Linked DNA regions of Homo sapiens. The protein of the gene in region 1 purifies or fractionates together with the protein of each later gene. This does not show direct contact. Each region holds a gene or a part of one and is shown in the gene's direction. Other genes may lie near its edges. The genes, in order: WDR73 and CCM2.

The links.
Region 2: the proteins of WDR73 (region 1) and CCM2 purify together in Homo sapiens (co-immunoprecipitation; one large-scale study listed by IntAct). This does not show direct contact.

What each region holds. Positions count from the first base shown.
Region 1 is NC_000015.10:84,647,694-84,651,507, reverse strand, and holds part of WDR73 (integrator complex assembly factor WDR73), read left to right. Parts: intron 1-2,882; coding exon 2,883-2,971; intron 2,972-3,553; coding exon 3,554-3,618; intron 3,619-3,814. UniProt on the Homo sapiens protein: Component of a multiprotein complex required for the assembly of the RNA endonuclease module of the integrator complex. Associates with INTS9 and INTS11 in the cytoplasm, stabilizing the INTS9-INTS11 heterodimer and blocking the active site of INTS11.
Region 2 is NC_000007.14:45,003,043-45,006,856, forward strand, and holds part of CCM2 (cerebral cavernous malformations 2 protein), read left to right. Parts: intron 1-3,814. UniProt on the Homo sapiens protein: Component of the CCM signaling pathway which is a crucial regulator of heart and vessel formation and integrity. May act through the stabilization of endothelial cell junctions. May function as a scaffold protein for MAP2K3-MAP3K3 signaling.

The sequences.
Region 1 (3,814 bases):
TGAGGCATGCAGGCAGATGACCTTGAAGGGCCATGTGGGGGCAGGAATTTGAGTGTTTGCTCCTGAATTCCTTTTTGTTTTGAGACAAGGGCTTGCTCTGTCACCCAGGCTGGAGTGCAGTGGCGCGATCCCTGGCTCACTACAGTCTAAACCTCCCAGGCTCAAGTGATCCTCCCGCCTCAGCCTCCCAAGTAGCTGGGACTACAGGCATGTGCCACCATGCTTGGCTAATTGTTAAATTTTTTTGTAGAGATGAGGTTTCACTGTGTTGGCCAGGCTGGTCTCGAACGCTTGGCTTCAAGTGATCCGCCTGCTTCGGCCTCCCAAAGTGCTGGGATTACTGGCATGAGCCATCACTCCTGGCCCCAAACTTCTTAAAAAAATTTTTTTTTTTTTTTGAGGTCTCACTCTGTCACCTAGGCTGGAGTGCAGTGGCGCGATCTCAGCTCACTGCAACCTCTGCCTCCTGGGCTCAAGCCATCCTCCCACTTCAGCATCCCGAGTAGTTGGGACCACAGGCATGTGCCACCACACCTGGTTAATTTTTGTATTTTTTGGTAGGGACGGGGTCTTGCCAAGCTGTTCTCAAACTCCTGAGCTCAAGCAATCCTCCTGCCTCCCAAAGTGCTGGGATTCCAGGTGTGAACCACCGCACTTGGCCTTTTTTATTTTGTTTTGTTTTAAATTATTTAATGAAATAGGAAACAATCCGAGTGCGGTGACTCATGCCTGTAATCCCAGCACCTTGGGAGCGGGAGACCAACGTGGGCAGATCACTAGAGGCCAGAAGTTCAAGACCAGCCTGGCCAACATGGTGAAACCCCATCTCTACTAAAAATAAAACAAATTTGGCCAGGCGCGTGGCTCACACCTGTAATCCCAGCACTTTGGGAGGCTGAGGTGGGCGGATCACAAGGTCAGGAGTTCGAGACCAGTCTGGCCAATATGGTGAAACCCCATCTCTACTAATAATACAAAAATTAGCCGGGTGTGGTGGCATGCGCCTGTAGTACCAGCTACTCAGGAGGCTGAGGCAGAAGAATTGCTTGAACCTGGGAGGTGGAGCTTGCAGTGAGCCAACATCAAGCCACTGCATCCAGCCTGGGTGACAGAGTGAGACTCCGTCTCAAAAAAAAGAAAAAGAAAAAGAAAATTAGCCGGGTGTGGTGGTATATGCCTTTAATCCCAGCTACTCAGGGGAGGCTGAGGCACCAGAGAATCCCTTAAACCCAGGAGGCAGAGGTTGCAGTGACCTGAGATGGCACCACTGCACTTCCAGCCTAGGTAACAGCATGACACTCCGTCTCACAAAAATAAGTAAATAAATTTATCTTAGGGCCTCACCATGTTATGGAGTTGAGTCTAATTGTTTAGAAGAGAAGAGGCTAAGAGGCTAGACAAGGACATAGAAAAACATTGTTCAGCCTGGGAGAGGCTAGATCCCATGCAGATGTGGCCCAGTTTTTATCAAAGTAGCCTGAGGACCACCCTACCAGGGCCATTAGGAGTGCTGGCTAAAATGCATATTCCTAGCATACTTCCCAAACATACTGAATTATAATCTCAAGAGGGAAAGCTTAGGAAAAATGCCAAGTTTGTAGACTGACATGGTGACTCACACCTGTAATCCCAGCACTTTTTGAAGCTGAGGCGGTGGACTGCTTGAGCCTAGGAGTTCAAGTCCAGCCTGGACAACATGGCAAGCCCATCTCTTCACAAAATTTAAAAAGTTAAAAAAGACCAGGTGTGGTGGCTTATGTCTGTAATCCCAGCACTTTGGGAGGCTGAGGCAGGCGGATCACCTGAGGTTGGGAGTTCGAGACCAGCCTGGGCAACATGGCAAAACCCTGTCTCTACTAAAAATACAAAAATTAACTGGGTGTGGTGGTGCACACCTGTAGTCCCAGCTACTCAGGAGGCTGAGGCAGGAGAATAGCTTAAACTGGGGAGACAGAGGTTGCAGTGAGCCAAGATCACGCCACTGCCCTCCAGCCTGGGCTACAGAGTGAGACTCTGTCTCAAAAAAAAGTTAAAAAAAAAAAAAAAGCCAAATTTGTACTCATAAAACCCAGAGGCTACAGAAGCTATAGGGTAGCACCTAGTGTTCTTCATCTTCCCCATCTCCAGTCAGGCTTGAGTCAGGGGTTCACCCAGACTGAGCCTAGCTGTGAGAACTGATTTAACCTCCCCGCTCACCACCAGCTTTGCCTTGTTTCTTCTATGGCCACCTCCTTTTCCCTTGCCTCTGGTTCCTTACATGGAGATAGTAGAGCCTAGTGGCTAACAGTGTGGACTTGGGTTAGACAGACTTTGGTTCAAATTCACAACTTAATACTTGTATGACCTTATATAAGTGGCTGAAGCTCCTTGTGCCTTAGTTGTGTCATTTGTAGAATAGGGATAATTATAGTACCTATATCATAGGAGGTTGTAAGAATTAAATGTGATAAAGCCCTAAACACTGCGCCTGACACAGTGAATACTGATAAGTTGTAATTGTTAATTTTTATCGTTAGAGGAACCCACCTGACTTCCAGCGGGAGAATGGAGGGAGAAATGGGGATGTGTTCATTGCTCTCTTTGATGAAGCTGTTAAGCTTCTCTGGCTTCTCTAGGAAGGCCTGGAGTATAATGCTTGTGCTGTAGTAAAAGGGGCTAGTGAAAGGCTAGGAGAAGGGTTTTGGATGTGCAAAGGAAAAAGGAAGCTGTACGTGTAGGCAGCTGAGACCAACATTGCCAAATACCAGGACACCAACGCCCTTTCACCAGCTGAGTGGCTTCCATGGCCTCCTGCCAGGCTAGGACCTGACTCCTCACTTAGAGTTCCTCTGAAATGTTCATTTGAAGAGCTGGCTCTGATTGGCTACTCCTTTGTATTTTAGGGCTTATTCCCAGAAAGAGATTTCAAAGTGCGCCATGGAGGATTTTCAGACAGGTCTATCTTTGATCTAAAGCATGTGCCACATACCAGGTATGGTCAATTTTGTGATCCAGCCATCCACACAGGATGGGATGGGATGGCTGCAAATGCCTGGGGGTATTCTGCCTCCTCATCTCCATTCCCACCCCCTCAGCACACAGGCACATGTGAGTGCACAAGTGTGTGCACACAGATACACACAGATTTAGAATACAAAGAAACCACTGCTGTGGCTTCATAGCCCCCCAGAGCCCTTGGACTAATGTAAGTAACAGTTCTACCGGAGTTGCTCCAGGGAATAGATACGGGACAGAAAGATGCTCTTCTATTGCTCTTGGGTGATAATTGCTCAGTTGGGAGAGGCCAAGAGTCTCTGGGTCAGGTTGTGTTTGGCCCCATACTTGTGTCCTCTGTAGGTGACCATCATGACACATGGAAGCTTGGGCTCAGTCTCCCTAAAGTTGATTGAGCCTGCTCCTTATCTGTGAAATGAGGGTGGTTGGCCTTGATGATCTTGCAGTAAGATGTCCTGATATGGGAAGTGGAGTCCCAAGCTAAGTGTGCTGGAAAGGGGAAGGGACCTGTGTGGATAAGCTCCCCATGGTCTGGACTGATTTTGTCTTTTCTGAATAGATTGCTGGTTACCAGTGGCCTTCCAGGTTGTTATCTGCAGGTGTGGCAGGTTGCAGAGGACAGTGGTGAGTGAATTTGACTTGATGGGGTTTGGGGTTCTAGGAAAGTGTGACTCATACACCCCTGTCCCCTAATCTGAGCCAGTTAAGAAGGAGACTCAGGCTGGGGACAGTCTCATGCCTGTAATTGTAGCACTTTGGGAGGCTGAGCTGGGTGGATCACTTGAATTCAGGAGTTGAAGACCACCTTGTACAACATGGT
Region 2 (3,814 bases), on another chromosome or scaffold:
TATGGACTCATGTTCTGTGCATTGTGGCACTATGTAATTCCTTTTTTTTTGAGATAGAGTTTCGCTCTTGTTGCCCAGGCTGGAGTGCAATGGCACGATCTCAGCTCACTGCAACCTCCGCCTCCCGGGTTCAGGTGATTCTCTTGCCTCAGCCTCCCGAGTAGCTGGGATTACAGGCGTGTGCCATCATGCCCAGCTAATTTTTGTATTTTTAGTAGAGACGGGGTTTCTCCATGTTGGTCAGGCTAGTCTCAAACTCCGGATCTCAGGTGATCCACCCACCTTGGCCTCCCAAGGTGCTGGGTGGCTGAGCCACCGCACCTGACAGTAATTCCTTTTTATTAGAAACTTGGATGCACTTAAGTTGGGTTGTGTGGATTTTTATACTCAGATCACAGCCCAAAAAAGCTGTCTTGTCAGGGTTGGGTGTAGGTAATCCTAACACTTTGGGAGGCCGAAGCAGGCGGATCACTTGACACCAGGAGTTTGAGACCAGCCTGGCCAGCATGGTGAAACCCCGTCTCTACTAAAAATACAAAATTAGCTGGGCGTGGTGGCATGTGCCTATAATCCCAGTTAGGAGGCTGAGGCAGGAGAATCTCTTGAACCCGGGAGGTGGAGGTTGCAGTGAGCTGAGATCATGCCACTGTACTCCAGCCTGGGCAACAGGGCAAGACTCCATCTCCAAAAAAAAAAAAAAACCATCTTGTGGCCTTAACCTTGTGGGTCTCAGCTTCTCTGCTGCCTCTGGTCTTCGGTTGCCCCACCAGGTGGCTATGATTTCACACTGATCAAAGTTAAATATTTTTACATTCATCTAGTTTATTTGCATTGTTTAAGGTAGAAAAAGGTTATAGGTTGAGTGTAGTGGCTACGCCTGTAATCCCAGCACTTTGGGAGACTGAGGTGGGAGGATCACTTGAGCCTAGGAGTTTGAGATCAGCCTGGACAATGTAGTGAGACCCTATCTCTACAAAAAATAAGAAAATTAGCTGAGCATGGTGGTGCATGCCTGTAGTTCCAGCTACTTGGGATGCTGAGAAGGGAAGATCGCTTGAGCCCTGGAGGTCGAGGCTGCAGTGAGTGTGATTGTGCCACCACCTGAGTGACAGCAAGACCCTGTCTCAAGAAGAAAAAGAGAAAAAAAAGGTTATAAAGTTCCCTAGAAATGTAGGACTAGATATTAAATAATAAATAAGGAATTATTAATTTTGTTGGGTATGATAATTAAGTTCTGATCTGATAGGCATGTATTCTGAGATATTTGTAGGTGAAATAATATGATTTCTGGGATTTGCTTTACTCAAAATAGAAGAAACAAAGGGGATAGCTGAATGCTTTGGTAATGGTTATATATTGTTCTGTCTACTTTTATGTATTTTTGAGAATTTCCATAATAAAAAGTGGAGGGGAAAAGATCCTCTAGGTTACAGGCCCTGAACTATCAGCTGCTGTAGTCACTGCTGGACCAGTGTCTGTGAGGAACTGAAAGCTTGGATTGGACCAGTACCTTTTAAAATTTGGTCACTGCAGGCACCAGGAAGCCATACCTTCTCCATGCTGACCTGATGCAGACATAAATGTGTGTGTCTGTATAACCGAAGTGAAAGTTTAAAGGAACCACACTTAAACGCTCTGATTTTTTAATTCTATTTTTTTTTCTTTCTATTACAACTGGTGGTTGGCCAGGTGCGGTGGCTCACACTGGTAATCCCAGCACTTTGGGAGGCTGAGGTGGGTGGATCACCTGTCAGGAGTCTGAGACCAGCCATGGTGAAACCCCATCTCTACTAAAAATACAAAAATTAGCTGAGCGTGGTGGTGGGGCCTGTAATCCTAGCTACTTGTGAGGCTGAGGCAGGAGAATTGCTTGAACTCGGGAGATGGAGGTTGCAGTGAGCTGAGAATGTGCCATTGCGCTCCAGCCTGGGCGACAAGAGTAAGACTCCGTCTCAAAAAAAAAAAAAAGGCTCATGGTCATGACCCACTAAACCGATTCTATAACTGTCACAAGCCATACTTGGGTTCAGAAGGTGAATTGGGGCTGCTATATTTTGTTTTATTTTTCCTCTTGGGTAGCTATTGCAGTGATTCTTGGATGGCAACTTGGTAACTCAGGGTCAGGAGGCTGGAGAACCAGGCAGGAGGTGCTCAGCAGAGAACCTAAGGCAGCCAGTAGGTGAGGCCAGAATGATCGGCAACATAAGGCTGGTTACTTTTCTGTCTTGAAGAGTTACCATTTACATAGTATGTATTTGTTAATTTTCAACATATTGTCAGATTCTGTCATAATTTAGATTCAGAAAGCACATCAGAACCTTCCAGGGCTGCTCTGAGCATCCTTTCAGAGGAAGATAGTGTAAAGCAAAACGTTTCTCTTAGCAATATTATTGCAGTGAAGGGCTTCCCTGCAGACGAGAAGGGCGTCTGCAGTCTGCCCCACTGGGGCGCTTACTCTTGATCTTCCAGTTTTTTCATTTCCGTCAGCAGTGCCCCCTCCTTGTTGTCACTTTGCAGTGTAAGTAAATGGTCATGATTAAGTCCTATAAACCTAACTATTGAGCATTTAAATCACCCTCTATTGTTGGTTTACGTGGTGGCGATACAAGTTTTTAGTGAGATAACTTGGTCATGCCTTGCCTATTATGTGCTTAGCCCACTGAGAAGAGGGTTAGGGACATTGCACTTTGGAAAGTAGGTCACTTACACCTAAAATTAGAGACTAAAGGCAGACCTAGGATGTCAGAAGAGACATGGGGCAGGCAGCAGCCACTTCCAGCCAGGTTGAGACCGGGACTGTGTCCTGCAGTTCAGAAGCAGAGATGAGGTGGAGAGGACCCCCCAGTCCTGGGAAGTCCTTGGGCTGGGAAGTTGGGTGTTGGTTCTGTATGCACTTGAAGCCACTGGAGGTGTTCCACATCATGCATTCACTTGTCCATTAAACTATTGTTTATTAGCACCAATGGTGTCAGACACAGATGCTGGAGACTGAAATGTGTACGGTGAGCCTGTGGCTGCAGAGCAGGAAGTGGAGCCCGGGGATGGATGGTGGGAGCAGGCTTTGGTAAGAGTGATCAGGAACACCTTTATGAAAACTTCAAAAGCAAATGTAAAGAAAAAAAATCATGTAACGAAGTCCCCTGTGCCCATGTGTGGGCAGTCAGTTTCATGTGCACCTTCTCCTCATTCCTGCTTCCTGCCTGTGTGGGCCGAATAGTGTCCCCTCAGAGTCATGTGCTGAAGCCCCTACTTCCAGGACCTCAGGATGTGACTGTATTTGAAGATGGAGTCTTTTTTTTTTTATTTGTTTTTATTTTAGACGGAGTCTTGTTGCTCTGTCACCCAGGCTGGAGTGCAGTGGTGCAATCTTGGCTCGCTGCAAGCTCCGCCTCCCAGGTTCCCGCCATTCTCCTGCCTCGGCCTCCTGAGTAGCTAGGACTACAGGTGCCCGCCACCACACCTGGCTAATTTTTTTGTATTTTTGGTAGAGATGGGGTTTCACCGTATTAGCCAGGATGGTCTCAATCTCCTGACTCCGTGATCCACCCACCTCGGCCTCCCAAAGTGCTGGGATTATAGGCTTGAGCCACCATGCCTGGCCTGAAGATGGAGTCTTTAAGGAGGTGATTGAGGTAAAATGAGGTAATTGTGTGGGCCCTAATCCAATCTGATGGATGTCCTTATAGGAAGTTATTAGGACACAGAGAGGAATGATCATTGGAGGACTCATGGAGAAGGCAGCCATCTGCAAGCCAAGGAGAGACCTCAGGAGAAACCACCCTGCTAAATTTACCTTGATCTTGGACTTTCAGCA